Homo sapiens: one gene and its partners. The gene in region 1 interacts genetically with each later gene. Each region holds a gene or a part of one and is shown in the gene's direction. Other genes may lie near its edges. The genes, in order: STK11, FBXO41, RPRD1B, DHX35, SLC30A9, SLC25A33 and ARID2.

What was found.
Region 2: changes in STK11 (region 1) and FBXO41 together harm fitness more than expected from each alone (negative genetic interaction), as found in Homo sapiens cells (one large-scale study listed by BioGRID).
Region 3: changes in STK11 (region 1) and RPRD1B together harm fitness more than expected from each alone (negative genetic interaction), as found in Homo sapiens cells (one large-scale study listed by BioGRID).
Region 4: changes in STK11 (region 1) and DHX35 together harm fitness more than expected from each alone (negative genetic interaction), as found in Homo sapiens cells (one large-scale study listed by BioGRID).
Region 5: changes in STK11 (region 1) and SLC30A9 together harm fitness more than expected from each alone (negative genetic interaction), as found in Homo sapiens cells (one large-scale study listed by BioGRID).
Region 6: changes in STK11 (region 1) and SLC25A33 together harm fitness more than expected from each alone (negative genetic interaction), as found in Homo sapiens cells (one large-scale study listed by BioGRID).
Region 7: changes in STK11 (region 1) and ARID2 together harm fitness more than expected from each alone (negative genetic interaction), as found in Homo sapiens cells (one large-scale study listed by BioGRID).

The regions. Positions count from the first base shown.
Region 1 is NC_000019.10:1,219,278-1,222,777, forward strand, and holds part of STK11 (serine/threonine-protein kinase STK11), read left to right. Parts: intron 1-46; coding exon 47-136; intron 137-1,095; coding exon 1,096-1,228; intron 1,229-1,303; coding exon 1,304-1,440; intron 1,441-1,935; coding exon 1,936-2,063; intron 2,064-2,671; coding exon 2,672-2,729; intron 2,730-3,500. UniProt on the Homo sapiens protein: Tumor suppressor serine/threonine-protein kinase that controls the activity of AMP-activated protein kinase (AMPK) family members, thereby playing a role in various processes such as cell metabolism, cell polarity, apoptosis and DNA damage response.
Region 2 is NC_000002.12:73,270,979-73,274,478, reverse strand, and holds part of FBXO41 (F-box only protein 41), read left to right. Parts: intron 1-1,349; exon of another isoform or gene 1,350-1,464; intron 1,465-2,176; exon of another isoform or gene 2,177-2,292; intron 2,293-2,968; exon of another isoform or gene 2,969-3,500. UniProt on the Homo sapiens protein: Substrate-recognition component of the SCF (SKP1-CUL1-F-box protein)-type E3 ubiquitin ligase complex.
Region 3 is NC_000020.11:38,068,246-38,071,745, forward strand, and holds part of RPRD1B (regulation of nuclear pre-mRNA domain-containing protein 1B), read left to right. Parts: intron 1-3,500. UniProt on the Homo sapiens protein: Interacts with phosphorylated C-terminal heptapeptide repeat domain (CTD) of the largest RNA polymerase II subunit POLR2A, and participates in dephosphorylation of the CTD by RPAP2. Transcriptional regulator which enhances expression of CCND1.
Region 4 is NC_000020.11:39,000,344-39,003,843, forward strand, and holds part of DHX35 (probable ATP-dependent RNA helicase DHX35), read left to right. Parts: intron 1-1,386; coding exon 1,387-1,499; intron 1,500-2,428; coding exon 2,429-2,525; intron 2,526-3,405; coding exon 3,406-3,500. UniProt on the Homo sapiens protein: May be involved in pre-mRNA splicing.
Region 5 is NC_000004.12:41,989,162-41,993,329, forward strand, and holds the start of SLC30A9 (proton-coupled zinc antiporter SLC30A9, mitochondrial), read left to right. Parts: upstream 1-1,368; 5' UTR 1,369-1,490; coding exon 1,491-1,599; intron 1,600-4,168. UniProt on the Homo sapiens protein: Mitochondrial proton-coupled zinc ion antiporter mediating the export of zinc from the mitochondria and involved in zinc homeostasis, zinc mobilization as well as mitochondrial morphology and health.
Region 6 is NC_000001.11:9,577,465-9,580,964, forward strand, and holds part of SLC25A33 (solute carrier family 25 member 33), read left to right. Parts: intron 1-2,489; coding exon 2,490-2,770; intron 2,771-3,500. UniProt on the Homo sapiens protein: Mitochondrial transporter that imports/exports pyrimidine nucleotides into and from mitochondria. Selectively transports uridine, thymidine, guanosine, cytosine and inosine (deoxy)nucleoside di- and triphosphates by an antiport mechanism.
Region 7 is NC_000012.12:45,900,706-45,904,205, forward strand, and holds part of ARID2 (AT-rich interactive domain-containing protein 2), read left to right. Parts: intron 1-3,500. UniProt on the Homo sapiens protein: Involved in transcriptional activation and repression of select genes by chromatin remodeling (alteration of DNA-nucleosome topology). Required for the stability of the SWI/SNF chromatin remodeling complex SWI/SNF-B (PBAF).

The DNA.
Region 1 (3,500 bases):
CTGTGAGTGGGGCCGCCCCCTGAGCTGTGTGTCCTTAGCGCCCCACGTATATGGTGATGGAGTACTGCGTGTGTGGCATGCAGGAAATGCTGGACAGCGTGCCGGAGAAGCGTTTCCCAGTGTGCCAGGCCCACGGGTGCGTGCGCGGGGCAGGGGCCAGGGTGGGGCGGGGGCCGGGGGCCAGGCAGGGCAGGCTCCTTTCCGTGAGGCCACACTGCTTGTCCTGATATTCATTGACATGAAGGCCCAAGTTTTTTTGTTTTTTTGTTTTTTTGTGTTTTTTTTCGAGATGGAGTCTCACTCTGTCGCCCAGGCTGGAGTGCAATGGTGCGATCTCGGCTCACTGCAAGCTCCGCCTCCGAGGTTCACGCCATTCTTCTGCCTCAGCTTCCCGAGTAGCTGGGATTACAGGCGCCCGCCACCACGCCCGGCTAATTTTTTGTATTTTTAGTAGAGACGGGGTTTCACCGTGTTAGCCAGGATGGTCTCAAACTCCTGACCTCGTGATCCGCCTGCCTCAGCCTCCCAAAGTGCTGGGATTACAGGCATGAGCTACCACGCCCGGCCTTGTAAAGGCCCAAGTTTTTAAAAACAGTTTTGGGGTCCCCCATGTGTGGCATCCACAGGCAGGGCTGCTGCCAACCTCCCGCCTCCATCTTTGCTGGGCCTGCTGCCTGAGGCCAGTGGCCTGCTTCCAGCCCATCGCTGGCAGCCGCCTGCCCTGACCAGATCTCCTGGATGCAGGTCTGTGGCCTCAGAGTCAGGGCCCCTTGCTGCTGCAGGACCACAGGGGCAGGGAGGGGCCTGCTGTTCCAGCAAGACTTTGGGGTGCAGCCGGCCTGTGGCCCACAGGAAAATGAGACCTGTGGACATCCGGGGCCCTGCCAGACGTGGCTCGGCCGGACGAGGGTGGCCACTGCAGGCGCAGGTGTGGCTCCCTGCTGGACCTAGCCTTTCCTCTGTCCTGTGTGCCTGGACTTCTGTGACTTCCCAGCTGGGCCTGTGGTGTTTGGGAGGCTCCCAGGCAGCTGCAAAGGGGACCCCTGTGAGGGGCAGGGAGGCCTCGGCCCCAGGACGGGTGTGTGCTGCCCGCAGGTACTTCTGTCAGCTGATTGACGGCCTGGAGTACCTGCATAGCCAGGGCATTGTGCACAAGGACATCAAGCCGGGGAACCTGCTGCTCACCACCGGTGGCACCCTCAAAATCTCCGACCTGGGCGTGGCCGAGGTAGGCACGTGCTAGGGGGGGCCCTGGGGCGCCCCCTCCCGGGCACTCCCTGAGGGCTGCACGGCACCGCCACAGGCACTGCACCCGTTCGCGGCGGACGACACCTGCCGGACCAGCCAGGGCTCCCCGGCTTTCCAGCCGCCCGAGATTGCCAACGGCCTGGACACCTTCTCCGGCTTCAAGGTGGACATCTGGTCGGCTGGGGTCACCCTGTAAGTGCCCCGCCCCCCCGGGCACTCACCACACGCACACTCCGAGGGGCCTCTGCGTCTTGGGCAGCTGCCGGCCTGTGGGCGCAGGGCGTGGCCACCGGCCCAGACCCTCTCTGGCCACAGCCGCTAGGGGGTGCTTACTTTATGGAAATGTAACTCATACGGCAGATGGTGGTTCACCCGTGTGAAGTGCAGCCTGGCCCGTCAGGGATCTTCACAGAGTGGCACGGCCGACCCTCCTCCCAGAGCCCCACAGGGAAGCTGGGCGGGTGACAGCAGCTCCAGGCCCCTTCCCCGGGTGGGTCCAGAGGACACTCCCCTCCTACCCCGTAGCCTCCACTAGTGGAAGGTGGTGAAGACAGAGGTGTCCTTGAGTCCACAGGGCCTCTGGTCCAGCAGCCACGGGACGCCTCTGTCCCTGGGGTAGAGCTGGGGCTCCTAGGGCGTCAACCACCTTGACTGACCACGCCTTTCTTCCCTCCCCTCGAAATGAAGCTACAACATCACCACGGGTCTGTACCCCTTCGAAGGGGACAACATCTACAAGTTGTTTGAGAACATCGGGAAGGGGAGCTACGCCATCCCGGGCGACTGTGGCCCCCCGCTCTCTGACCTGCTGAAAGGTGGGAGCCTCATCCCTCTGCCCGCAGCCCCAGGGAGGCGGGGCTTTTGTGCAGAAATGTAGGGTTGGGGGTGTCAGGTGGGGGGCTATTGGCCCCGAGACCCCAGCAGGCATTGAGAGGACTGAGTGGAGAGGCCGACCTCCCCGCAGGGCCTGGTTTGCCAGGTCCCTCAGCTCCACCCTGCTTCTGGGCCCTGTTCACCCTCCGAACTCCCACCCCAGAGGGCAGTGCTGCCCTGCGCCTCCCCCAGCCCCACCCTCGGGGGCTCCCTGGCTTGCAGGGTCTGTCAGGGTTGTCCTGCTGCACTTCCTACGCATGGCAGCAGGTGGCACTGGCCGTCCGTCCATCTGCCCAGTGGCCTTGGGAGAACGGAACCGCCCTGGCCGTCCAGCCCAGCCCTGTCTCCCTGCCAGCCGCGCACAGGCTGTCCCCGGCATGTCCCAGGAGTGGAGTGGCCTCTGTCAGGGAGACCGCCTGTGCGCGGGGTCCCCCTTAGGAGCGTCCAGGTATCACCCAGGGCCTGACAACAGAGGCTGGGCAGGCGGGGACGGTTGGTGGGGTCTCAGGCCTGTGCCCAGCTGACAGGCTCCTCGCCGGCTTCTCCTCAGGGATGCTTGAGTACGAACCGGCCAAGAGGTTCTCCATCCGGCAGATCCGGCAGCACAGGTGAGCGGCCCCTGGGGGCAGTGGGGCCGAGGCTGCAGGGAGGCCGGCCATGTGGGCAGCTGGTTGAGCGGGCGCTAGAGCAGGGCGTGGTGGGGGTGCCAGGCTGGGCTGGGGCCAGACCCCGTGCAGCGCCCGCAGTTCTCGGGGCCCGAGTGGGGTCTCTGGGCAGTGTCCTGTTACCGGCCAGACCCAGGCGCCTTGTCCGAACTGGGGTCTGAGTGAGGACATGCGTCCGTCCCTGCCCTAGGCATGGAGATGCGCCAGGAAGGGCACAGCTGGTCCCAAACACTGGCGAGAGCCTCTCTTTTTCCCCTCCTCCTGGGGCTCCCAGCAGCAGGGTGTGGCTGGGATCCAGCCCAGGGCCCCCAGCTCCATGACAGGGAAGACAGAGCAGCGGACGGGGTCAGCAGGCCCCACAGTGCCGCCTCCCTCACTTCGTGGGCTCTGCTCCTCTGCACCAGCCCCTGGAGGCCCTTGAGCCGTCTGCTGGAGCCCCTCCGAGCCCCGAGGCCACCCACTGAGACCGGCTCTGGGAGTGGGAGTGTCCGGACCCCTGAGGCGCTGGTGCTGATTGTGCCTTGGGGGTCTCTGCACAGCTCGGGTCATCTGGGCGCCTGGCGGGGACTGGGGCTGCCCCCCGATAGCCTCCTGGGCTGGGATGTGCTCAGGGCCCCCCAGACCCCCTTCTGGCCTTTGCTGGCTTTGCAGCCAGCATCCATCTGGTGGGTGCTGGCTTCTGAGTGCCACCTGGGACACAGGCCTCAGGGTGGA
Region 2 (3,500 bases), on another chromosome or scaffold:
ATATCAATAAAGACCATAAACAAAAGTAAAAGCCAATCAACACACTTGAGAAAAATATTTGAGGTATATAAATGACACAGGATCAATAATATTAAAAGCTTTTGTAAATCGATAAGAAAATATGAATGTTCAGTATGAAAATGAGCAAAGTAGTGCACAGGCAAGTTACCAAAGAGATAGAAATGGCCAGTGTATGTGTGAAAAACTGTCCAGCCATCACAATCAAGGACATGCAAGTGAAACAGCCAGGCCACTTTCCAGTTTCAAATTGGCAAGAGCACAGGGGCCAGATCGTGAAGCTGAGGAGTTTGGCTGCAGTTGGTAGTGGATGGGGGTGCCCTTGAAGGAGTCTGAGCAGAGGAATCCGATGCCTTTACAGATGGAATGGAGCTGCGGGACTGAAGGCTGGGCCAGCAGTCTAGATGTGATGAGGTTGTGGCCTGGAAGAGTACAAAGCATGAGAAAAGAACAGTTGGGTTGAAAGCACTTGGAAGGAAAAACCAGTAGGTCTTGATGGTTAGCAGAGAGAAAAATCAAGATGGCCAGTGCTGTGGCTGGGAGGACAGTAACACCAAAGGAAACAGGGGTGCTGGGTAGTAGGTGAGGAGAAGTCTGGGATTTGTTTTTGACACTGTGGGCCATTGTGTTAGTCTGGAGTCTCATTACTAGAGACTGGCAACCGACCCAAATGATAAAAGCTACAAAAACATTTGCAGCCCTTCTCAATGGTCAAGTCCTGGGTTAGAGCTTCAGGCACATCTGGATGTGGATGCTCAAATATCATCAGGGGTCCTTTACTTTTGTCTCAAAGACAGGGCAAAAATGGCCACAAGAGGCTCCAGGCTCACAGCCTACCAACTGAGCACAGCTCCCGAAGTGACTGTATCGGCCCAGACTGAGAAATGAGTCCATTACTGACCTGACCACTGTGATTCTAATGGAACAGACTGAGGTCATGTGTGTTCCCTGGGAGCCAATGGAAGCTGTCAGCCCTACCCAAATCTATTCAAAGTGCAGGCAATGGTTCTCAAAGGGAAAATTGGGGATCAATTCACAATAAAGAGGGACTAGAGCCGGGCAGCAAAAACAATAAAAGTCCACTGTATTTCACTTCTTAGATGTCAAAGATCGACACAGACCCCCTTTACTGTGTAATTTTAAAAAATATTTTCCTGTTTATCATAATGCAACTATCCCTCACCAAACTTAAAGCACAGTTATCCCACTTCTGGGAGGAGACATTCCAAGTTTTCACCCAGTTACCACATCTATCCCCAATTCAACATCTTGGCAATGGCAAGGGGCTGTTTGTTTGGTTAGGTACTAAGGTCATGGTCTTTCCATTTAAGGCCCAACTACAATGATGGAGAGAAAACTGTATAGCTGGAAGAAGAAAAACCCTCCTAGTTGAAGAGGGGGGTGAGGAAAAAAACCTGGACCGTGGTCCACATGCTTGACTGAATGGTGAGGAAGAGGTTTCCTGGTACACCAATCTCACTGCTCTGATTTTGCTGTCTCTGTGAGAGGGGCATTGAAGGGTGCATGTTTGGGGAGGTTCAGGGCAACCATAGGGGCTGAGCAATCCTTTGGTTTGTGGGGGCTTTCTGGCAATACAATCCCCTTAATCCCTGGGAGGCTTTTCAGTCAGTTTGCATTTGGTTATCCCCAGAGCTATTAACCAAAGCTAGAGACCTCTATGAAAGTTATGGTTCTTGAATGAAGTCCCTGGTGGTGGTGTAGAAGGAGGGAGGGGTTATCTCTTAGCAACAGGCCTCAGTGTTCTGCCCATCCCAGGAGCCCTTGGTTCTGCAGCCTCTAACTGGGCCTCTGCCACAGGGCAAAGCAAACTCCAACTTTGGGGAGGGAGGCAAAAGGTCATCTGCCCCTTCTCACTGAAGCTGCATCCCAATGGAAGGCTGCTTATAATGGAAGCTTCTGTCCAGCTGGGAGGGCACAGCAGGAAGGGTTCAGCAGGGCCCAAGGAGTTGAGTACCTGTCAGGCCCCAGGCTTATCTCCCTCTTAGTTCCCAGCCTCTTTGTCTTCGCTTGAGCTGACTTTAGCTTGAAGCAAAGAACTGGCTCTTAATTATCTGACTCTCAGCCATATTGAATTACTGGCTGCAGGCAGAAAGGGCCTCTCTGGGCAAGCCCAAATTTTCTTCCTCTCTGCTTTCAGATGGGCTCCTTTCAACCAGAGTGTGTCTCTTGCTTGTTGGACCTTACTGAGGCCGTTGGAAAGACACTCCCAACATCCTGACATTTTTCTACAAATCCCCTAATGTTCCAGCCATGGTAGGTACATGGCCTGAGCTCCAGGGATGGTGGGAGACAGTTTAATCATCTGCTTTGCTGCTGCTCTGTTCACCAACCTGTGAGTGGGGAATGGGGGAAGTAGTGCCAGCTTATGTCCCCCTCCTTAGTTCAGCTAATTTCTTTTGTGGATCTATTAAAAATTTCCATCTCTGATTCTAATTTCTTGGTTAGGATATTTTCTGGGTGCAAGTAACACAGATCCAACTGTAACTAGCTTAAGCAAAAAAGGGAAATAGGGGCTAGGTGCAGTGGCTCACACCTGTAATCCCAACACTCAAAGGCTGAGGCAGGTGGATCACTTGAGGTCAGGAGTTTGAGAGTAGCCTGGCCACCATGGTGAAATCCTGTCTCTACTAAAAATACAACAATTAGCTGGGCGTGGTGGCACATGCCTGTAGTCCCAGCTACTCGGGAGGCTGAGGCAGGAGAATCGCTTGAACTTCAGAGGGGGAGGTTGTAGTGAGCCGAGACTGCACCACTGCACTCCAGCCCAGGTGAAAGAGTGAGACTCCATCTCAAAAAAAAGAAGTTGGGGGGGGGGGAGTGCAGAATTGATTGGCTTGTGTAACTGAACAGGCCAGGCTCTCAAACAGTGTCTGTGAGGAATGTGTTTCTCCATCTAAGTTTTGCTTCTTTGGGTTGGCTTCATTCCCAGGTGTCTCCTCCCAAAAGGAGAAAGGATGGCACCAGCAGCTCTGGCCTTCTCCATCAGCTTAGAAACCTGATCCCAAAGACAATGCTTTCCCTCAGTCATTCCAGAACAGTCCTGGGGCTCACTGGCTCAACTTTGGTGCTCTATGTTTACCCCACGACTGATTTGCCAGGTCTATGTCATATCCCCAAGACCATGTGGACTGAGAAAGTGGGGAAGGATGGTTCCCTATGGTCAAAGCAGGGTGCTGTTACCAGGAGGAGGACTGGATGCTGGGCTGGCAAAAGGAACAGACATCCACCCATACATCCTGTGGAAATGCCAGAAGGCAACACAACTATGCGGCAGGTCAGGATGGAGAAGTAGAGCTTACAGGTGCAAGTAAACCTGTGTGAGGGAAGCTGACTGCCTTCCTAGGGGGAGAATAGAGATGGAGGGCTCCAGAGGCAGACCTCAGGGAATGAGGACGTTTAGGAAGGCAGCAAGAACAGGAAGTTGCAGAACCCAGGGGAAAATCCAGACAGGAAAGCTCATG
Region 3 (3,500 bases), on another chromosome or scaffold:
AGAAAGGCCCCACCACTGGAACCAACGTACAGAGTCTGAACTGAAGGTTCTTATCTCAAACCATGTCTCCGAGGCACATGAGCAGAACCATTTATTGTAAAAAATAGAGCCGATTTGCTGCATTAAAGAAAGCAAATGACTAGATACAGTATAAGGTTTTTTTCTGAGATGGAGTCTCGCTCTGTCACTCAGGTTGGAGTGCAGTGACGTGATCTCAGCTCACTGCAGCCTCCACCTCCCAGGCTCAACCAATCCCCCGTCTCAGCCTCCTGAGTAGCTGGGATTATAGATTATAGGCATGTACTACCACGCCCGGCTAATTTTTTTTGTTTTTAGCAGAGACAGAGTTTCACCATATTGGCCAGGCTGGTCTTGAACTCCTGACGTCAAGTGATCTGGCCGCTTCACAATATAAGATTTGAGAGATGGTTTTAGTTCTTTTCTTTATCCACGCTTGCTAAAAATTTAGGCAGTCTGCTCTCCTGAACCTAAGATTTTTCTCTCACATTCTGTAATAGACTGGTCCTGTCCCATCACATCCCTATGGTGGTGGCCGAACTTGATAAATGTATGCCCCTTGAAAGATGCGTGAATACTGTGAATTCCTTCAGATTGTCCAAAAGTCTCTCTGCGTGATGGGGCAGTACATAAAGTTTACCCACTTTTTTAACATTCATTTTTGTAACACAGCCAGTCCGTTTTAAAACTTCCAAATCAGAATGCTAATTAAATATTTTATTTTTTAATCCTTTCATTGCCTTCAGGATATACATAGATGAAATTCTCAGAACTCTTTGGAGAAGTAGTTATTTGCTTGCGAGTCTGTTTTCATCCCAAAGCTCTAATATACTTAGGTTTTGTGCTTTCCTTTTTAACTTTGTATCTTGCTTTATGTAATAAGCATCTTTTTCTCTTTCACTTGGGAATTTTATGTCGGTGGCTCCTGCATGTCAGGATAGGGCGTGTGATGATTCAGAGCCTAGGATGTAGGAGAGGGAATTACGGCTCAAAGTAGGAGATTGTGTTTCTTCCCTCGAGGAAATCATATTCTGGTATAAAAAACACAGGTGAACATAAAACCAAACCACTTGATCGTACATAATGTAGATTAAGGAGGCATTTGGCGGTTCTGATTGTGGTTTAAGGTAAGTCCAAACTTCCTGTCAGGCAATAAAACCTTTTTGTAAAAGGAACTAGCAGTTGAAGAAGAGAAGCATGTTTATAAATGGGGAGCAGTTAGACTGGACCAGACAGGTATCTGAAGAAAGACAAAGTCAGATGTGGGAAGGAGGTGCTGCAGACCACCAGTGGGAGATTAAGGTCTGTGCTCTTTAAGAAGCTACGTATTCATTCAGGGAGTCAGCAAAGCCTGTGCCAGCCAGATGTACAAAGATGGGCACGATGCACTTCTCCCCTCAAAGGGCTTATGCTCTAGTCAGGGGGAAATAGCAGCAAACAAGGGGTTAGGGTAGAATTCAAGATAGGTTGTCAGTAAGGAAAATATTCTCACTTGTGTCTACCTTGAAATAGACCAAGAAAAAAATGAAGATGCTAATAATAATTTGATCAGATGCTTATTAAAATTGTGAGAGTTATCAAATCATGGACAGTTTCTGAAACTGTAATGCCTTCAGCAGGTCTCCCAAAGTTTGCTAGACTGTATACTCTTTGAGTGCTCTCACAGTGCCAGGAACATATTTGTTCCTCAGTAAATACTTGTTCTGTGAAATCCATCACTTGATGTAACCTTTTTCTATAGAGAAAAGGGTTTTTTTTTAAGGTTGCATTAAAAGTGGCTTAACAAATCTGATTTAATGATTGGTTGTAAAGAATATGTTAGTACGGAAAGGTAACCATTTTTAGAAGTTTCTGTAGGTTTTCTCCTTTGTACTACTTTTCTTTTTTCCTTTAAGTAGAATTATGCTTTATTCTGAGATAATCATCTTTTTTTGTTTGTTTGTTTTTGACTTTTGCTTCAGGGTGTCATGATTGACTTTGGCCTATGATGTTGGCCCTTAAACACCAGGCAAGGGTGGAAGGAATGCTGCTGAAAATCTGTGGGTAATGTTTTTGTCATGAACATGAGAAAACCTAGAAATGGAGAAGGCACGTGGAAGGAAGCACAAATGGCAGCCCAAAGAGGAGGTTAGAGAATGTGGAGGGTATAGAAGAAAGCCCATTCAGAAAGGCAAAGGCCAAAGATACCAGAAAAGCCTTCCAGCTTCACTTCCAGAGCAAAGAGAAGCTTTGTTTGTGGTTGACAGAGGTGACTACATTACTCCCAGATGTCTGCTCAAAGCTCATAAGACATAGCGTGAGTGGGTTGGATAGGGTTCCTGTCTTGTCAGCGTGAATAAAGCATGATACAGACATGTTCTGTTAGCATGATCAGTGCATGTGGAAGAGTGTGTGTGTGAGAAAGAAACCTATTTGTACAAGTATTAAGGAAAGAAAAAAGGTCAGGAACCTGCAGTTTTCCCTTCTTAACTGTGATTTTTTTTTTTTTTTTTTTGAGACAGACTCTTGCTCTGTTGCCCAGGGCTAGAGTGCAGTAGAGCAATCTGAGCTCACTGCCTCCCGGGTTCAAGCGATTCTCGTGCCTCAGCCTCCCGAGTAGCTGGGACTACAGGCGCATGCCACCACACCCAGCTAATTTTTGTATTTTTAGTAGAGATGGGGTTTTGCCATGTTGGGCAGGCTGGTCTCGAACTCCTGATCTCAGGTGATCCACCTGCCTTGGCCTCCCAAAGTGTTGGAATTACAGGCATGCGCCTCCATGCCTGGCCTTAACTGTGAATTTTATTCAGATCATGGTGTCTGACTGTCAGCGATCTAGAACTGAAAGCAGATAGTCCTGTGTTGACCCACATGCCACATGGTGCACACACACAAAGATGATATGCCACACAGGGAAGAGCTCTTGAGAAATTTGTTCCAAGCTGCAGATTTATTGTTTTAGTTGAGGTGAAATTCATATAACGTAAATTAACCATGCACTTCAAAGTGCACACATTTTGGTGGCATTTAGTACGTTCACAGTATTGTATCAAGTTCCAAAACATAATTGTGTCTGGCTTCTTTCGGCACGATGTTTTCAAGATTCATCCCATGTTGTAGCATATATCAGTACTTCATCTCTTTTATGGTAGAACACTAATCTGTTGTATGGATGTGACACAGTTTATAACCTGTCTATGGACATTTGAGTTGTTGCCACCTTTTGGCTCTTATGAATAGTGTTGCTATAAACAGTCATGTGGAGGTTTTTGTGTGGCCATATCTTTTCATTTCTCTTGGTTATGTATAAATCTAGGAGTGGAATTGCTGGGTCATATGGTAATTCTATGTAACATTTTGAGGAACCATCAGACTGTTTTCCACAGCAGCTACATCATTTTACATCCCCACTAGCAATGTGCGTGGGTTCCAGTTTCTCCACATCCTCATCAACATTTGTTATTGTCTCTTTATTTTCGACAACCTACATGTGCAGGTTTATC
Region 4 (3,500 bases), on another chromosome or scaffold:
TGTTTACTCTTTTGGGGCATGGGGTGTCTGTTCCCACTTGTTTGTATGTCACTTCTAGTGTACCTGTGCTGTGCATGTCATAGGGATGCAGGAAGGCTGAAGCAACTTGAAGGGAATTTACCCAAAAGAAAGTGAACAGGAGTACTGTGTGGAATTCTGCATAGCAAAACATAGTTTTGTTGACATGAGGCACTTTGATGTCTGTGCTTATTCTTCTCAATTTTGAGGTTAATATATAACATCCCTGTATTTTGTGGTTAAATCCAGTTTACTCTTTTAAAAGTACCCCTCAGAGCCCCTTCACTTAGCGTTTGATGCCATTCGTTAGCACAGCTCCTGGGCTCCTGGGTTTCCTGGAGCAGGATGGGCATGTTTTGTAAAGGTACATAGGGAAATAAAGACAAGCTTTGTAGTTATGTAGCCAGGCCTCAGGGAAATGAGTAGAGGTGGGGAATGGAAAGGGCACCCAGATTCAAATAATGGAGCACTCCACCCGACGGGATATCCATGCCCCCTCTGCAGTGGGCACCAGCTGCTTCCCATCTGGTGCTCACTTGCCTGCCTGCATGGTCACTTAGCTCTTCTCAGTCTCAGCTTCTCTTTGTACCTTAGGGTCACATTCCCCAAGAGAGGATCTTTGGTGGCGTTTCCTTCCCCCATCATTGGCTGGAGCCCTCAAGACAGGTCTCCTTGTGGGCTGCAAGTGGTGGTCAAGTACCATTAAATAGGATGTGGACACCTGTTTGGCAGAAACTGCCAAGAGACACTTCTCCCAACAGGGTACTGCACGAGTGTTGGGGAAGTACATGATTGATGGCCTACCCCATACAAAGCCTCGCACTCACTACTGTAGGGCGTGTAAAGATGGAGAAGACACTATCCCTGCCATCAAGTGGCCTAAAACCAGTAACAATGGGGCCGGAAACACACCTACTGTTCACAGAAGGAAAAGTTTCCTATCAAATGATCATATCTGTGTTTTCCAGATAGAGTTACCCACCAACCTCATCTAACCTGTACTGAACTTGAGTCACACCTTTGACCTAATTTTTGCTTAAATGAAATACAGAGGATAGGAATAATATAAATAATACTAAAGCTACATGTTAACTCAGATGCTATGCTGAATGCAGTTTTGAAATCTAACCTTTATTATTTTTATTAAAACTTTAGTAAAGACACTGTCATTGAAATGTGATTCCCCACAATTACAGTTAGAAAAATGTGAATTTAAAAAATGTATTTTGCAACCCATAATCTGTATTGCACATATATAATCTTGCTACTCACCTGTCTTTGGCAAGTTTTATATTATTTTTTCTTTCCATGAATCGCTACGAACCTTTTTTTCTAAGAGAAATGAAGAATTAATTTTTTTCTTTTTAGAAATTCCGGGATTTCTTTAATCAAAATGAAACCAGTGATCCAGCAAGGGATACATGTGTGATCCTTACAGTGGAAGGGAGAACATTTCCGGTGGATATCTTTTATCTACAAAGGTTTGATGATGCTTGAATTCTGGATGATGGTGTTTAGAAAACTCAGCCTCTGATGTAGAATGTCAGAACTGCATTTGCTCACAACTCTAAAGGATGGGGAGGAGCATGTTTTGTGTCCCTAGTCATTGGTCTAGAATGTTCTTACCCTGCTCCGGATCACTGCTGAATTTAGTTTAAACTGTTCACACTGACATGCAAGTTTCCGTAAGTCTGTGGCCAGTAGCTCAGCCAGAGAGAGCAAAAGTGGTGAAAGGTTTTGGGGAGGGAAGCTTGATAGTTTTCAGAACTGGGGTTTACAAGGCTGCCTGTCAGCAGGGGCAGTATTGGTGATTTGAATCATTTGGCTCTCAGTTCTCTACATCCCTAGCGAGAAGGCCCAGTTGGCATTTTTAGGAGTAGCCTACTTGGACAAGGAAGGGGCCATCCTAATTCCTGTACTAGTCACTGGACAAAAAAAGACCAGGAGCCTGTTCCAGTGGCTGATAAATCCAGAGTCGTGGACTTGATTTCTGAATCGTTTTGTTGGAGAGCTCATCCATCAGGGCCATCCAGCCGACCCATAGATGCTGCTATTGGTTAGGAGGGAAAATGGGCTGGGAAGAGCGTGGGCTTCAGCACTGGGACCACAGCTTCCGATTTTCACTGGTCTGATGTCTTTGCATACTAAAGATAGCACATCTATTTGTATGGGTATATCATGTTATTTCTTTCCAAATAAAGCTAAAAATCATAGTTGACATATAATTATGGATTATTCTTGAATATTAGATTTGAAAAAAATGAATATTTATTTTGTTTATCCTGTACTAATTACCTACTGGGCAGGCCCAAACTCACTTTGATGAGCTTTGCTGCCAGATTATTAGGGTAATTGATCTGTAATTAATGAGCATATTCTAGTGATGAATTCATCCCATTTGTCTTTTCAGTCCTGTTCCAGATTATATCAAATCAACTGTCGAAACTGTGGTGAAAATTCACCAGACAGAGGGAGACGGAGACGTTTTAGCATTTCTTACTGGCCAGGTAATGCCACTGTACTTCTCTGATGAATAGACATGTTAAGACAGCACCAAAAGTAATACAGAGCCTTGTTACTTTACTCAGTCATGTATTTCATGTTTTGTTGTATTTTGTGGTTCCATAATTGTGTAGAAAATTGATTTGATGTCATTCATCTACCATCTAGATTGTCAGGGACTCGTTAGCCCCTGCCTGTTCTGTCTGCAGAGGGTTAAATGTTTTTTTAAATGTATTAGCTGATTCCAAAATAAACTAGGTAGTTGAGTGAGGGCTATTTTGTTTGCCAGAATTGGATACTACATTAGGTCCATGTCCTGCACACATGTTGCTGCTGTGTACCTCTTTTTCCAGTGACACCTTTACAGCTCATCCTGGAGGTGATAAGTGGCCATATTACTGGTAAAACAACTGAACAGACCCAAGTGCTCGCTGACGGTGGCCAGCACTATTCAGACCTGCCCTCCAACTGTAATCTTTTCCACTGCCAAACACTTTCCATGGTTCAGTAATCTTTTTTGGAGAAAGCTTACAGTGATTTTATATGCTGCAACTTGTCTATATGCATGAGATGCTTGTTTGACACCGTATATGTATGCTGAGTAAAATAGTCATCGTTTTTATTTATTGGGAACTCTTCCATTCATTGCAGATCATACCGAGTTTTTAGTAACTAATAGTGTAGTTGCAAAATTTCACCCATTGTCATCATTGTGTATTAGCATTTAATTAAATACCATCCCAGAGTGGAACATGACGGCACTGAAATTCTTGAATCTGACCAAAATTAAAGTCCAGATCCCAACTTTTATTTTCTTTCAGTATGATAAAATAGCATGCTTTAAATTGATCTCGGTTTCTTTGGTTCCTGGTTCAACGTCTTTAGGAAGAGGTAGAAACTGTTGTGTCGATGCTCATCGAGCAGGCTCGAGCACTAGCTCGCACTGGGATGAAGAGACACCTCCGAGTTCTCCCCATGTA
Region 5 (4,168 bases), on another chromosome or scaffold:
CCAAAGCCATTTTAAGAATCCAAAATATGAGATTAGTTTTGTTCAAAAAGAATTATCCATAAAAGTTAATAGATGTTTGCATAGTTACCATAAAATAAGAGGTAAGCCTTTATGTATTTTTACTTCATAAAGTTGAATTTCTATTAAAATCTATTACAAGAAAGGGAAAGTAACTTTCCAGTAATATTCAGATTTTTTAGTAATATTGAGCCTACATTTATGGGACATCATTTTTTAATGTTTGTCCACTGAATATTTTAAGTTATGTTTGTCATAGGAAATTAAATTTGCTTACCATTCTTAACGATAATCTCTTTCCTCATTTGGTTATACTTATCTCAATTAGTATAAGAGACTTGTTGATTTTTTTAAAAATTAAGGACATACTAAATTTCCCCGAGATAGTTATTTTGCAGTAATATAGATAAGCGACTCAGATTAACTTTAAAACAAACCACCATACATTCCATTCAATTTATTTTTGCCAGGCATTGTTTTAGCGGCTTTATACAGCCATGTACAAAATAGACAAGATTCCAGCATCATGATGCTTATTTTCTATTCTAGGACACAAAATAGAAAAAAAAATCTCAAATAGTGATAAGCGTTTTGAAGAAAAGTATATAGGACAGCCGGGTAGAGAATGACCAGGACTACCATAGCTAGGGTGGTCAAGGAAGGCCTCTCTTGAGTTTGAGTTAAGAGCTGAATGAGCATGGCAGAGAGAAACAGTTAACGTGGATACTGTTCAGGTTTCTTTCTCCCTGGGACCAAAATGTTTCGAAGTCTGCATACCTCCGTTTACCCTAACTTGTCATGAACATAAAACCTCTTATATTGCAGGCAAAAATCTGAGGTTCACAGATTAGTAGGGCAAGTAGCTGATTCCGAAGTGTGTACTTGCCTTTATGATACTGGATACACACTGGTGTTAACAAGGAGAACGATGTACGTGGCAGACGTTCGGAGAGTACTGGACATGTTGGTTCTAATTTGGGTTTATCCTGGCAGGCTCTAGGTAGAGAGGCTCAGAAAACCTGCGTCCATCCTTCCCATCTTTCCTCCCATTTCCGAAACCACGGCCCCGGTTTCGAGTCCAGAAAAAAAGGAATAAGTAGAACTCCCAAAGGACAGCTTTCCTGGCTGAACAAGATGTAAACAGTTTACGTGATTTCCAACCAAGCGCAAAAGTACAGGTGCAAAAGAAGACGGCAGACACCAAACTTCCCCTGCAGCCACGCCCTCCCCACTTTGGGAGTCTGGGTCCCCGGGAAGGAAGGCCTCCCTATTGGTGCTCAACGTGTTACGTCACTTCCGCTACCTCCACGGCAGGCGTCGCTAAATGACGTTGCCGTTTCCGGGTCACCCAGGCAGCTTGTGGCGGCGAAGCCATCGGTGTTCGCTGATGTCCAGTCTATGGAGTCAGTTGGTACCGGTGGCGGCGCGGAGGCAGAAGGCGGTGTCCGAGTAGGGGCCTCTGCCCCACCAGGATGTTACCCGGCTTGGCCGCCGCCGCGGCCCACAGATGTAGCTGGTCCTCCCTGTGCCGGCTCCGTCTGCGATGCAGGGCGGCGGCCTGTAATCCCAGCGACCGCCAGGGTGAGTGTCCCGCGCTGGCCGCTGGCTCCGTAGAAGCCGAACTGGAGGGCCAGGCTGGGCTCGGCGCCTCGCCTGGGGCAATTCGCCCACTTGCCTTTCGCCAACCTCAGAACCTTCCTTTCTGGCCTCCGCCTTTCCAGTTCAGCCTGCGCAGCCCGCGGGGGTCCTGACAGGTCTCTGACTCTGATGCCTTCTGCAGCCCTAGCATGGCCCCCGCGGGAACTTGTGGGCACCTCGCGGGCCGGATTGCACCTCTGAAGCCTACCGCTTTGTACCAAACAAAATGTTACGTGCGCATCGCGGTGTCCCGCGGTTACTCACCTCCGCGGTTGGAAATTGCGGACTCCGCAAAGTTCCAGGGTCTTTGGAGCTTTCCAGCGCACCTTCATTTAGCACTTGGTTGAGATTTTCTTGGCCTTCTTTTTCTTACTCTCCCAACTTATTTTCTTAAATTTTCTAAAAGGAAGGAGGGGTGCTACTCACTACGGATCTTTTGGAAGAAGTACGAAAGTATCCGACAATCATTGAATGAACCCAGTTTGGGTCCGAAAAACAAAGAAACTCTTCAGTTCGGCTGAGCAGTCTTTTTGGTGAAAAGGTGGCAGTTGTAGTGGTAACCCAGAAAAAAAGGTGGTTGAAGAGAATTTTCGTCTCTCTCAACATTCTTTTCTGACTCAAATTTAAATGGTTTGAGAGTTTCCAAAATAACATTGAACTAATCAGGCTTACCTTCGTTTTTGCCGTAGCTTGACACACATTGCTTGACACTGAGAACTGATAGGATCTCTGAGGGAGAAGACAGAACTAAGTCCACCCTTAACCTAATCCCTCCATTCTTGGGATGCAGAGAGTATTTACCGAAACATTCATGTTCGAAGCCAGGTGTGGTGGTGCGCTCCTGTAGTCCAGCTACTCGGGAGACTGAGGCAGGCAGATCTTTTGAGCCCAATAGTTCTAGGCTAGCCTTGGCAACATAGTGAGCTGTCTGTAAAAACATAGGTTTGAAAAAACCTGTAACATGTTCGTGACCTCCTGAAAGAAGTCGGAAGTTGCAGTCATTCGAGATTTTATGTAATATAAGCTATAGTAACTATGCTGTGGATATAAATTAGAATATATTCGTATCTTTTATTTGCAATAAATGTAAAGCTGAATCTTAGAATTTCAAACGGATAAATTTTAACAGCACTATTCCCAGGGCTTTTTTGGTAGTGATAGAAAAGTGTAACTGTTGAGTTTTTCCATATTGGCAATATACTGCCAGGTTCCCTTATGGACAGAATGAATCATCGGCTGGGTGCAGTGGCTCATGCTGCTAATCCTCAGGAAGATTGTAAACCTTAGGACGCTGAGGTGGGTGGATCGCTTCAGCCCAGGAGTTCCAAGACCAGCCCGGGCAACATGGCAAAACTGCCTCTCTACAAAAAATTAGCCTGGTTTGGTGACGCGCGCCTGTAATCCTAGCCTGTACTCAGGAGGCTGAGGTGGGAGGATCGCTTGAGCCCAGGAAATTGAGGCTGCAGTGAGCCTTGAGCATGCCAGTGCACTCCAGCCTGGGTGACAGAGTGAGACCTGTCTCAAAAAAAAAAAAAGAAAAGAAAAAGAAAAATGAATCATACGTTTATACTGTACTCCAGAATCCCCAAGTAAGTTTCTAACACAATTGTTTCTATTGACCAAGCAATTTTGGCATTTTACACTGAAATTACAGTGGCTGTTAAATTTAGTCTAAACTGCCCTTTAAGTGTTGGCAAAAAGGAGAAGAAACAGTGTAATTTGTAATCCCTCTTCTGTGTAGCTGTCATTATGTTGAAAATTATGTATTCTTTGTCTCATCTGTCTGTGAAACACAGATAATTATTACCTACCTTAGTGGTCAAAATGACTTTGCAAAGTTGTTTGGAATGTTTATTACTACAAAAAATTAAAATTTTTTTTACACTTAAAAATGCTTAGTAGGTTTTTAAAAATAACTTTGTGAAAATTTAGTTTCAGTAATGAAGCATTTCTTAAAAGGGCAACCATTATTATGGCAAAATTTAAAAATCATTTAGAAAAAGAGTACTATTTAAATTGGATGCATGTGAGAAGACTATTTGAAGAACTTTTGGAGAAAGAAAATCTAAAAACAGTTGTTTTTATTTGTCTAGAAGTAAGGTTTAGTTTATGCTTCTAAAATGCCTGTGGCTGGGAAAAGCTTATAAAGCATAAGGAGAGGAGGAAACCTTGAGGGATTGCTTGAATACTTAAAAATGAGGAATGCCTTTAAAGGCAAAATAGAAACTGTCTAAAAGAAATATGAGAGCCCTGTTTGTAATTTTGAGTTGTCTGATAGCCACATTAAAAAAAGTAAAATTAAAGATGAATTAATTTTAATATATCCTAGAATTAATTTTAATAACGAAATTTATATATTTTAATAATAAAATATATAAAATTTAATACTATTTTATTAAGTATATTCAAAATATTTCAACATGTAATCAATATCAAAATTATTGAAGTATTTTACATCATCTTTTTGTACTGTCTTTAAAACCCAGTGAGTATTTTACACTTTCAGCACATC
Region 6 (3,500 bases), on another chromosome or scaffold:
TAAGACTCCATCTCAAAAAAATGAAAAAAGGAAAAAAGAAAAGAAAGCATGGTTAGTTCTGGGGAGCCGTAAGACAGGGAGTGTAGTTGGCGTGTAGTACGTGCATCTGCGCTGGAGAAGGGAGTTATGGAAGAATAAGGCTGGAGGAGCAGGGGAGCCCGATCCTTCCCAGGCCTGAAAGGGAGTTTGGAGTTGGGCTTTGAGGGCAGTGGAAAGTCATCAGAGCAGTGGTCCTCAGGGGAAATGGAGGATGGAGGTAGGGGGTGCCCTCCAGGGGACATTCAGCATTTAAGTTTGGAGACATTTGAAGTTGCCACAACTTAGGTGAGTGTTTTTGGTGCCTAGTGTGAATAGAGGCCGGGATGCTGCTAAACCCTACAAGGCACATGACAGCCTGCTTCTCCCCAAACTGAATAGTTTAGCCCCAAATGTGAATAGCGCCAAGGGTGAGAAACTCTGGATGTTTTGTTTTGTTTTGAGACAGAGTCTTACTCTGTTGTCCAGGCTGGAGTGCAGTGGTGCATCTCAGCTCACTGCGAGCTCCGCCTCCCGGGTGCACGCCATTCTCCTGCCTCAGCCTCCCGAGTAGCTGGGAAGTGCCCGCCACCATGCCCGGCTAATTTTTTGTATTTTTTAGTAGAGACGGGGTTTCACCGTGTTAGCCAGGATGGTCTCGATCTCCTGACCTCGTGATCTGCCCACCTCAGCCTCCCAAAGTGCTGGGAATACAGGTGTGAGCCACCGCACCCGGCCTCTGGATGGTTTTAAGCACGGGAGTTGCATGGTTGGATTTGTGTTAGAAAGGTCACTGCCGCTAAGGAGCGGGAACAGTCTATGCGGAGATAATAAAGAAGGGAGAGAGGCCAGCTGAGACTGAAGCCCAAGGGGCCCCAGGTCTGCGCCCGCTCGGAGGGGTCTGTGATGTGTGACCGGTGCACACCTAACTACACTCATCTGGTGGCTCACTCTTGCCTTGCAGCCAGGCAGTTCATAAATGCTTTTTGTCCTGGGGTAGGAGCCTCTAAACCTCATGGTTTTCATTTGCTGTTTTATTTTGATGTTTTATGATTTTATAAATTTAGCAATAATAGAATCTATTTGGAGACGAGTGTGATCAGAAATCTAATAAGTAGCCTCACCAACAGGTTGGAATGTTCCTATTTTTCTTTCTTATTATTTACTTTTTTGTAGAGATAGAGCCTCACTACATTGGCCAGGCTGGTCTTGAACTCCTGGCCTCAAGCAGTCCTCCCGCCTTGGCCTCCCAAAGTGCTGGGATTACAGGTGTGAGCCACTGCTCCCAGCCCTTGTGATCATCCTTTACCTTTAACTTAGTCCTGTTTTCCACTGAAAGCATTCCCTGTGTCTCACGGCCTTGTGACTTAATCTAGCAGATATACCGTGGTCAGCTATCTGGATTGTTGTCCTGATTGTTTTGCAGTTGTAGTTCCTCTGTGATGAGCCTTACTGCTCCCTGCAGCTCTTTCTAAAATTAGGTCAAATGCTAATGTTTTTATGAACATGTTTCTATGACTCTTGATACAGATGTAGCTAGTGTTCTGTGGGCCTGTCAGGTGTGCCAGCTACTTGGTCTGGCCTCACAGTGGGCTGGAGGTCAGCTGACAACAGTACAAAGATATGTGGGAAAAACTCTCCTCAAACCATGTTTTTCCTCCACTGTCACACCACAACAGTCATTGACACAGAAGATGACTTCTGTGACCAAATGTGTAGGGGGTTTTCCCCACACACACCAAACAGCGGACACCAGCTGGGTGTCCTCTCATTCACTTCCGACACTGTCTACCAGGAGACAGCCCCACAGATTGGGGGCTCAGTCCCCAGGACTGCCCACCCCCCGCCCACCCACTTACCCACACACCAGTTGTATGTCTGGGCCTCCAGAGCTTCTGAACGACCAGCTTCAAGTTGGGGTTCCCATGACCCTCTCTTTGGATTCTATTAATGTGCTGGAGTGGCTCACAGAACTCAGGGAAACACTTAATGTTTACTGGTTTGTTATAGAGGACATCGCAAGGATACAGAAGAAGAGACAGGTAGGGCCAGGTACAGAGTAAGGGGCGTGGAGCTTTCATACCCTCCCCGGGGGCCACCCTCCAGGAGCCTCCATGCGATCAGCTCTGGAAGCTCCCTGAACCCTGTCCTCTTGGGTTTTTCTGGAAGCTTCATGTCAGCAGCATTCCTTCTCCCAGAGATAGGAGGGGACTCTCATGGAGTAAGACCAACAAGGTAAGGACATTAGAGGATGGCCTTGGGGCAGGTGAAAGGAGATCAAGGGACTGTCAGAGGCTGCCCCTGCGGCCTCACACACCCCACATAACGAAAGACAAGGGCTATGAGAGTTAGGAGCCAGGAAACAAGTATCCTAACACCATAAGGAAGACCCGTACCTGTTCTCCTACTGTGTGATGTCTGTGTTCCACCATGATATGTCTCCTTAACAGCCTGTGTTGGTCTCTTTTATGCAGAGTGAGGGGCTCTAAGCAGATGAATACACTCCAGTGTGCTCGTTACGTTTACCAGACCGAAGGCATTCGTGGCTTCTATAGAGGATTAACTGCCTCGTATGCTGGAATTTCCGAAACTATAATCTGCTTTGCTATTTATGAAAGTTTAAAGAAGTATCTGAAAGAAGCTCCATTAGCCTCTTCTGCAAATGGGACTGAGAAAAATTCCACAAGTTTTTTTGGACTTATGGCAGCTGCTGCTCTTTCTAAGGGCTGTGCCTCCTGCATTGCTTATCCACACGGTATGTTTTGCTTTTGTTCTTCCAGAGCAGTAAAACAGCTGTCACGTTTGTTGTTTGTGGGTATATCTAGACTTCTGAGGCGCACATTGAGGCGCAGGATCCCTGCAGGTAAGGTCAGTGAGTATGAGGGAAACAGCTCTAACCGCATGGACAGAGGTCACGTGAGTGGTGGGAACTCGACCTTACTCAAATCCAGCTGATTATAGCCAAAACTTGTTGTGCAGAAACGCAGGTCCTGGGTTGCTGAACTTTTGCTGTTTTCAAGGAAGCTAAAAATCTGGATTGTATTTAATATTCCTTGAATCAAAATGATAATATGGGAGCCAAACTTACTCAGCCTCGGCGGGGCACGGTGGCTCACGCCTGTAATCCCAGCACTTTGGGAGGCTGAGGCGGGCGGATCATGAGGTCAAGGGATTGAGACCAGCCTGGCCAACATGGTGAAACCCCGTCTCTACTAAAAATACAAAAATTAGCTGGGCGTGGTGGCGCACGCCTGTAGTCCCAGCTACTTGGGAAGCTGAGGCAGGAGAATCGCTTGAACCCGGGAGGTGGAGGTTGCAGTGAGCCGAGATCAAGCCACTGCACTCCACCCTGGCAACAGAGCGAGACTCTGTCTCAAAAAAAAAAAAATAATAATAATAATAATAATAATAATAATCATTCAGCCTCTATTTCTAATGGAGCCTTAAGGCTACTTTGGGTAAGTTTATTTTTTTGAGTTATAGAA
Region 7 (3,500 bases), on another chromosome or scaffold:
CATTTAAGACCCTACATGCCTAAAAATGTCTGTAATCTACCCTTACTCTTGATAGTTGTTGGCTGTACATAACATTCTAGATTGAAAAATCATTTTTCTTTAAAAACCTGAGGGCATTGCTTTGGTGTATTCTAGCACCAGCTTTGCTGTTGAGAAGACTAGTGACATTCTGGTTCCCATTTCTTTGTATGTGATCTGTTTTCCCCCCTCTAGAAACTGTTGTGATCTCTTTATTTCTGAATATTCTGAGGTTTCTTGATGATGATGTGTCTTCGGTGGGTGTTTTGTTGTTGTTTTCATTGAAGTCATTATTTCATTTTGGTGGGTCCTTTCAATCTGGAGATTTATATCCTTCAGTAATGGGAACTTTTCTGGTATGTTTCTTTTTCTTTTCTCTTTTAGCTTTCTGTTTTCTCTCTGTTTAATCTATTTTTTGGAAATTTCCTTAATTTTTTTTTTTTTTTTTTTTTTTTTTTTTTTTTTGAGACAGAGTCTCGCTCCGTTGCCCAGGCTGGAATGCAGTGGCACGATCTTGGCTCACTGCAAGCTCCACCTCCCAGGTTCACGCCATTCTCCTGCCTCATCCTCTGGAGTAGCTGGGACTACAGGCGCCCACCACCATGCCCCGCTAATATTTTGTATATTTAGTAGAGACAGGGTTTCACCTAGTTAGCCAGGATGGTCTCGATCTCCTGACCTCGTGATCCGCCCTCCTCAGCCTCCCAAAGTGCTGGGATTACAGGCATGAGCCACCACCCCCAGCCGGAAATTTCCTTAATTTTTAAGAGCTTGTTATTGGTTGCCAGTTGTTACTATTTTATAACATCCTGTTCTTAGTGGTGTCTTCTCATCTCTCTGAGGATATTAACACCTCTACTTTTGTAGTTTTTTCCCAATCTGTGTATGGTTACTCTTTCCTTGTAATTCCTCAAATTTCTGAGGATTTGGGGGTTTGCTTATCCTCCGCCCCCCAAGACAAGAGTCTTGCTCTGTTACCCAGGCTGGAGTTCAGTGGGGCCATCATGGCTCACTGCAGCCTCCAACCTCCTGGGCTCAAGTGATCCTCCCACCTTAGCCTCCTGAGTAATTGGGACCACAAGCATATGCCACCATGCCCAACAGTTCATTTTTTAATTTTCTGTAAGGTGGGGGGTGGGGGAGGGTGTCTCACTATATTGCCCAAGCTGGTCTTGAACTCCTCAACTCAAGTGATCCACCTGCCTCGGCCTCCCAAAGTGCTGGGATTACAGGCGTGAGCCACCACGCCTAGCAAAAAATAAATTTCTTTTACCCTTCGTACTGTTTTGAGGAGGGAATGGAAAGAAACTTGTTTAAACTTGTTTTCTTAGAAGCTGATTTGTATCCTAAATGGTTTTTACTAGTGTTGCTTAGAAATTATTTTTATTATCTGTTAAGGATATTAGAGTGACCCAATATTTATTCTTTGTTAAATCATCTCAAAAAACTAACATGTGAATTTAGAAGTTGAAAGAATATCATTTTATAAAAAAACAAATTAGGCATGTTTTGTTTTATATCAAAACAAAGTGAGTGCTTAATTTTTTAAAACCTCAAAAAATTAAACATTTATATCAAAAAGGAAATTATTAGTTACTTTAAAATCATCCTAGTGATTTCAGTTTATTCTTTCTAGTTTTATCCATGCAATATTCAAATAAAAGAATACTTTTTAACATGTGACTATCACTTTGAAAAATATGATTTTGTTAACTTTTTGAAACTAAAGTCTTTTTTCTTTCTTTGTTAAAATATTCATTGATTGTGGGGAAAAACTGATTGTACTTTGTAAAGTTATTTTTATTTTGTAAATTTTTTTTTTTTTTGAGATGGAGTCTCGCTCTGTTGCCCAGGCTGGAGTGTAGTGGTGCAGTCTCGGCTCACTGCAACCTCTGCCTCCTGGGTTCAAGCGATTCTCCTGCCTCAGCCTCCTGAGTAGCTGGGATTAGTAGCCTCCCAAGTAGCTCCTGCCACCACGCCCAGCTAATTTTTTGTATTTTTAGTAGAGATGGGGTTTCACCATGTTGGCCAGGCTGGTCTCGAACTCCTGACCTCGTGATCCGCCTGCCTCAGCCTCCCAAAGCGTTTTGTAAATTTTTAAATCAATTTTTGTACAACTAATTTTTCTTTTCCAGAAAGATCTTAGAAATTTCATACTTTATTTTAAAAGTTGTTAAATAAAATTTTAAAGAAAATCATAAAGATTTTATAAAACAGAAGTGTAAAGTTCAGTGAATTATCACAAACTGAACCACTCATATAACTATCTGTCCAAGTTAAGAAATAGAGCAATATCAGTTGAAATCTTTCATGTTCTCTCCAATCTTTACTCCATCCTCCTCTCTATAAGGGACCACTATCCTGATCTGTGACACCAGAGGTTCATTTTGCCTGATTTTGAACTTTCTATATGTGAAATCATACAATATTATTTTCAGCATTATATTTTTGAGATTGATTCATGTTGTTGCATGATAGTATTTTATTCATATTATTGTATTTTTTTCTCTGCTTTTGATGGGCAAATGGGTTATTTCCAATTTGGGGCTATTAAGAGTAATGCTGCTATAAACATTCTAAACCATATTCTGTTTTTTGGCCATATACGGAACATATTTCTGTTGAGTGTTTTCAAAGGATTGGTGACTCATAAGATGTTAAAAGTTTGCTACATGATGCCAACCAATTCCAAAATGATTTTATCAATTGACACTCTATAGAAATGTATGAGAGTCTCAGCTACTCCATGTACTTGCCAACATTTGGTATTGTAATTAAAATGTTTAATTTTATCCACTCTTTTGAGTGTGTGATGGTATGTATATATGGAAACTACATAAAACTGAAATGGCCCAAAAAACATGAAAAGATGCCCAACTGTTTATTCTTCAGTCTCATTTTTTGCTCATTTCTTTTCCTTTGCTTTACTATAGTAAAAGTGACTCCAGTCCCTACATTAAATTTTGATTTTGAATTTTTGCATCTTTTCCATAAACTTCTTTTCTACAGTGTTTTTTAATTCAAAATGTACGTGTCTTCATCTTCTCTTTTTTTCTCCTGTAGTTTCTTTTATTCGGAGTTATTTTAATGAAGGCACCAAGGTTCCTGGGTAATCTCATGCTGGCTGATATTTTTTTTTAACATTTAATATAAAATTTTTCACACATAGGCAAATTTGAAATGTTTGCAATGAAATTTTTTATACCTGCCACCTAGCTATTACCATGAATATTTTAGTATACTTGCTTTATCACATATCTGTCCATTTATCCATCCCACAGTTCTGGGTGATTTTTACCATTTTTCTCAGCCCCCAGCATCCCTTTTTTTTAGCTAGATGATGCTCACTTTTATAATCTCTCATTATATAGATAGCCACATCAATATTGTGATCTTTTGGGTAGAAAATTTAAGATTGATAAGTTTTTAGAAAACAGCTTTTATGGCTAATGGGGCATTTAGGATATAGTTAAGCTAGATGT